Linked DNA regions of Homo sapiens: region 1 is linked to region 2. The links come from fine-mapping of genetic effects on gene expression. A gene starts in region 2. The other region holds a variant in brackets. All regions are shown on one strand. Distances are between the middles of the regions.

Region 1 (2,901 bases), 69 kb before region 2:
TTTTTTTTTGAGATGGTGTCTCGCTCTGTTGCCCAGGCTGGAGTGCAATGATGTGATCTAGTTCTGTCACCCAGGCTGGAGTGCAATGGCATGATCTCGGCTCACTGCAACCTCTGCCTCCAGGGTTCAAGCAATTCTCCTGCCTCAGCCTCCCGAGTAGCTGGGACTACAGGCGCCCACCACCACGCCCAGCTAATTTTTATATTTTTAATAGAGACAGGGTGTCACCATGTTGGCCAGGATAGTCTCCATCTCTTGACCTCATGATCTGCCCACCTCGGTCTCCCAAAGTGTTGGGATTACAGGCATGAGCCCCCGTGCCTGGCCAGGCATCCCATTTTCTAGATGAGGAACCCAGGTCTGTGAGGAGTGTGTGTGAGGTCACACAGCTGCAGAGTGGCAAAGTCAAATTCCAAACCCAGGTCCCCGTGGCTCACAGCCAGGCCTTAACAGCTGCATAAACTTCCACCTATTCTTAGCACCTGTCACAAGGCTTCATAATCATTCATTTACTTGCTGTTTTGCTGGGAAATTGCTTACTGTCTTTCTGAGAAAGCAGCTGCAGCCTCCGTAAGGACAGAGGTCAGGCCTGATGCATCCTAGAATCTTCCTCACCACTGTCCCCACCAGCACCAAGGCCAAGGTCTGGGTGGTGATTTCCTCTCAGATAAATCCCTTACCCTTTGAGAACCAGAAAGAGAAATTCCTCAGATTATGGTCTGTCATAATCCCCTCCCTGCTTCCCTGTCAGTTTTTGACAGTTACCCTGAAACCGTTTTAAAATGATCTCAGAGGCAGAGACTGGCCTTCTCCACGCATGATTAAGCACGATGGCTTTTTAATGATTTGAGCTGTGCCTTCTGTGAATTGACAAAAATGGATTACCATATATTTCTGAAAGCCACACTGCCAAAATCAGATTTTTTTTTTTTTTTAGTTTTCTCAGCCATCCTCGAAAACCTTAGCTGAGAATGACAAATACTAGGGGCTTTAATTGTTCAGTCACATGAGGGTGGTGCCTCCTGAGTTCTGAGAACTGCTCTCGCCAGGAAAGCCTTGAAATGCTCCTGGGCTTCGATCTTTAGGAAATTGAACTGTGTGTTTTCTCTGAAGCGGAGAGCTGTCTCCTGGGCCGTGGCACGTTTGCTGCATTTGTGAATTGTTTGGGCACTGAGGTCTGAAACAGAGGCAGTTCTTGCCCCAGAAGCATGCTCAGGGCTGTCACGACTGGATGAGGCCTGGCTTGGCTGTGGGTGGGTGGACAGGGCAAGCGGGGAGGGGGTTCTCCCTGTGTGGGCACTTCCTCCTCCTTTTCACTCTCCTGCCAGACTCTGTTCATGGAGTCCTGCACCCTTCACCTGATTCAGGCCACCCACATCTGCGACAGGGTTATTGCTAGTACCTTGGACAGATGCAGACTCGCTGCTGGCTCAGAGAGGTTAAGTCATTTGGCTGTGGTCACAGGCTGGTAAGCCACAGAGCCAAGGCAC[A/G]TGGTTTGACCACAAGCCTGTGCTTCCCCCACAATCGCTGCTGCTTTAAAAAAATCAAATGAGGCCAGGCCTGGTGGCTCATGCCTGTAATCCCAGCACTTTGGGAGGTCGAGGTGGACAGACCGCCTGAGCCCAGGAGTTTGAGACCAGCCTGGGCAACATGGCGAAACCCCGTCTGTACAAAAAAATTAGCCAGGCGTGGTGGCATGCTCATGTAGTCCAGCTACTCAGGAGGCTGAGGTGGGAGGATCACGTGAGCCCAGGGAAGTCAAGGCTGCAGTGAGCTGTGATCGTGCCACTGCACTGCAGCTTGGACAACAGAGTGAGACCCTGACTCAAAAAATAACAATAATCATCATCATCGTCATCATCATCATCATCATCATCATCATCATCATCAAATGAGAGGCAACTCATAGGTATCCTCTGTAGTCCATTTACATTTAAGGAAAACAAACCTCATTGTGTATCCACTAGCATCAGTGGCTTCAGTCGTCTACATTATCTGCATTTCACAGAGGAGGATGTTGAGGCTCATGAGATAAGGTAGCTGACCAGAAGTCACACAGCTAGTAATAGGACAATTATGATTTTATTCTAAGTCTACCTGATTCCAAAGTTTCTGCCCTACTCTGTCCTTTGTAGGAATCTGTCTCAGGCTCCTTCCTCCCTCTCTAACACAGGTAAGTCTGGCAAGGGGAAGCCTGAGTGGCTTCTGTGAGGTTCTGGAAGGGGCCTGTGGACCAAAGAAAAGGGAGGCCCTTGGTCTATAGGAGTGTGGGCTGGTCTCCTCTTTACTGATGCTGGGAGTAAACCAGATGGATTCGTCATGGCCTGATGGAGAGAAGGCCACCTGTCTGGCCTGTGGTCATGTGTGCTCTCGGCTCCTGCTCTGTTCTATGTCAGGGTTAATTTACTATATATTTACTCCAAACCTACCATGCACCTGGCATCACACTAGGCTCTTTGGTGGCTCCAAAGATGCATCTGGCAGGATCTCTTCCTTCCAGGGCTACCATCTGTCAGAGAAAAAGACCAACTCAGACCCTCCTATGAGTGAGCCTGGGCCAGGGGATCAGTGGTGGGGCCCAGAATGGTGTAGGTAAGAAGAGCCATCCCTCGAGGGCATCTGGGGGGGCTCCTGCAGAGGGTGCCCAGGCTCCTAGGGAGAGGCGGCAGCTCTCTGCAAGGTAGTGCCTGCTGCAGGGGGGCCTTGCTCCAGCCCAGAGGTGGGAGATAGGGTCAGGCTAAGCCACAGGCCTTCAGGAGGTAGCCTGTGGTCTCAAAGCCAAGAGTACTTCCCTGGGACCTTCTTGGACCCTCCAAACCAGGCCCAGTCTCCCAAGTTGTGCAGGAATGGAATGGCACAGCAGTGAAGGGCAGAGCAACCAGGGAAGATGGCCAGAGTTGA
Region 2 (2,901 bases):
CGTGGGAAGCCTGGGAGGCAGGATGGCAGGAGATTTGGACCCATAGACCTGGGTGCCAGAGGTCAGGCTTCTTCATTTGAAAACCAGGGAAGCAGTCTCTACCTCACAAGGTGGCTTGAGAACAGAGTGAGAGAATGTGTAAATCACCCCACCTGAAGTCCAGCACATGGGCAGAGCTCAGCATCCTTTGGATCCCTCAGGCCTGACAGGTGCCCCTGCGCTGGGGGGGTTGGTGGGGCTCTGCAAAGGCAGGCACTGCTCACCTCTGGGCTCAGAATTCTTGTCTAGAGGCTTCTGCAGCTGCCACCCTCGCCTGAGAAAATGCAGGTAGAGACATCTAGAGCCACCCCATGGTAACTGGGGGCTTTGAAAGAATGGAAGAGAGCCCCAAGGAACCAAGGTCCTGGGGATTGACAGGCATGAAAATATGTCCTCAACACCACCCACCCCTATTTCCAAGGCCCTCCTCCAAGCATGCCGCATGCTGTTCTCCAGAAAAGCCAGGGCCTCTGGTAGCTCCAGCTGCTGAGGGGCTGGAGCCTCGCCTTCCCCTCACCAGACCAGAGCCCGGAGGGTGGGGGTTGGGGGGCTCTTTTAACTCCTTGGTGGAGATGAGGAAATTTGGGCCCAGGGAAGTGCAGGTTCAGAGCTGCACCTGCTGTGCCTGGAACAAGGCCAATCCCCATAACCCATGCATCTGCGGAGGTGGCCCCCCAACTGCACATGAGGGGAACAGGGGCTGGGCTTTCTTTTTAATTTGTCTTGCTCTAGATGACAGAGGAACTTTTAGAAAACTGGTGGGATAAGGATGGACGGATGCCCCTCAGCAGTCTCTGGCCTCGTGCCCGGCTGCCAGCAGAGGAGGACACGAGGCCTCAGAGGCCCCCGACGCCCCTTCTCCAGGAAAGCACAGGGTGTGTGGCTTCTCCCCAGCCCCTTCTTTGTCCCAGTCCCCAGTCTGGAATCGCTCTCTGGGCTGGGCCAGGCAAGTGGGCCGCAGAGGCCTGGCTTAGCTTTGGGAACGGAAGCACGGGAAGGGGCGCGGAGAGGCAGGAAGCGGCCTGGGGAGGCTGGGGTGGCCGGGACTACGGACCCGACCGCATAGACGCGATCAGCCCCTCTTGGCGTTCCGGTGTAGCTGACCCCGCCCCGGGCTCTGGCCGGGCTGCGAAGCCGGGAACCAGCGACCCCCCGCCCAGCCCCTGCGGCCGCCCCGCCCCTCCCCGCCCCGGCCGCCCCGCCCCCGGCCCCGCCCCGCTCTTTCGCTTCCCGGGCCGCCGGCAGCCGCCGCCAGCCGCAGCCATGGGCCGGGCCCGGCCGGGCCAACGCGGGCCGCCCAGCCCCGGCCCCGCCGCGCAGCCTCCCGCGCCACCGCGCCGCCGCGCCCGTTCCCTGGCGCTGCTCGGAGCCCTGCTGGCCGCCGCCGCTGCCGCCGCCGTCCGGGTCTGCGCCCGCCACGCCGAGGCCCAGGCGGCCGCGCGGCAGGTCCGGGCCCGAGCTGGCTGGGGCGGGAGCGCGGGAGCGGGGACTGAAGGACCCAGCCTCGGCAGCAGGGGGGACATGGGCATGGACGAGTCGGGGGAGGCGGAGGGCGGAGGGGGACTGGACGGGAGGGAGCACGGGAAGGAGGGGACACGGGAGGCGGGTGGGGGGTGCCTGGGGCCGGGCTGATGGGGGGAAGGCGAACGGAGGCCAGTGTGGGGCTGGGACAGACTGGAGGGGTCTCTATCCAGAGGGGTGACCTGGACACAGTGAAGCTGGTTCCCGCAGAGTCTTAAAGGGTTACTGGGGAGCCCTGGGACAGTGAGGAGGGGACACAGGAGAGGACAGAAGGTGCAGGAGGAACAGGGCCAAGCAGCCAGGGCCAGGCGGAAGGCGGAGTGGGGACAAACTGGGAGGGGGCAGTCGGACCAGACAGTGGATGAGCAGGGACCAGGAGGGACTGGAGGCTCTGGGGCAGTTCAGAGGCAACATTTGCACAGATGGACCGGGAGGCACTGGGAGAGCTCAGGAAGATGGTGGGAGAAGGGGCTCCATGCGGAAGCAACTGCCTGTTGGGGACCAGGAGACCAGGCCGCCAAATGGTGCCCAGCCCAGTCTCTCCTCCCAAGCAGGAACTGGCGCTGAAGACCCTGGGGACAGATGGCCTTTTTCTCTTTTCCTCCTTGGACACTGACGGGGATATGTACATCAGCCCTGAGGAGTTCAAACCCATTGCTGAGAAGCTAACAGGTACCAGGAGAGACTGGCGGCTGGGGAGGAGGGCGCCTTGGCCAACGGTGTCTTCACTGAGCAGGAGCGGCCGTCTGGAGTGGAGGGAAGCTCGTGGGATCTCAGAGGCCCTGGACTCCTCCCAGCTCTGACACTTTGTAGCTGGTGGCTTGGGCGAGCTGCTCCAGCAACCCCTGAGCCTGTTTTTCTCAGACTTGTGAGCAATAATACCAGCTAACATTCTTTGGTCTGCGAGGTAGCTCACGCCTGTAATCCCAACACTTTGGGAGATGGAAGGATCGCTTGAGCCCAGGAGTTCAAGACCAGCCTGGTCAACATGGCAAAACCCCATCCCTACAAAAATACAAAAATTAGCCGGGTGTGGTGGTGCACACCTGTAGTCCCAGCTACTTGGGAGGCTGAGGTGGGAGGATCACTAGAGGCCATGAGGCAGAGGTTGCAGTGAGTTGACATCACACCACTGCACTCCAGCCTGGGCGACAGAGTGAGACCCTGTCTCAAAACAAACAAACAAAGCAAAACCAAAAAAACAAAAAAACCATTCCTTGGCCACCTCCTCCGTGCCAGGTATTTAAGTATTTCATGTGGGTTCTCTCTTTAAACCTCACAGTAGCCCTGGGAGATGGACACTGTCATGATCCCCATGTTTAATAGTCTGAGAGACTAAGG

What was found.
Region 1: its variant is fine-mapped to the expression of SELENON in whole blood (TOPMed, PIP above 0.99).

Annotation. Positions count from the first base shown.
Region 1 is chr1:25,729,483-25,732,383 of GRCh38, forward strand. All of the region lies in intron 2 of MAN1C1 (mannosidase alpha class 1C member 1), which reads left to right. Among named protein-coding and RNA genes, the nearest start is that of SELENON, 69 kb to the right of the region's middle. The variant A/G (reference allele first, on the strand shown) is at 1,491.
Region 2 is chr1:25,798,929-25,801,829 of GRCh38, forward strand. SELENON (selenoprotein N) reads left to right here and starts at 1,265. Exons shown (of 12, transcript NM_206926.2): 1 at 1,265-1,485; 2 at 2,115-2,232. The coding sequence starts at 1,303. RefSeq lists an enhancer at 459-1,180 and a silencer at 990-1,129.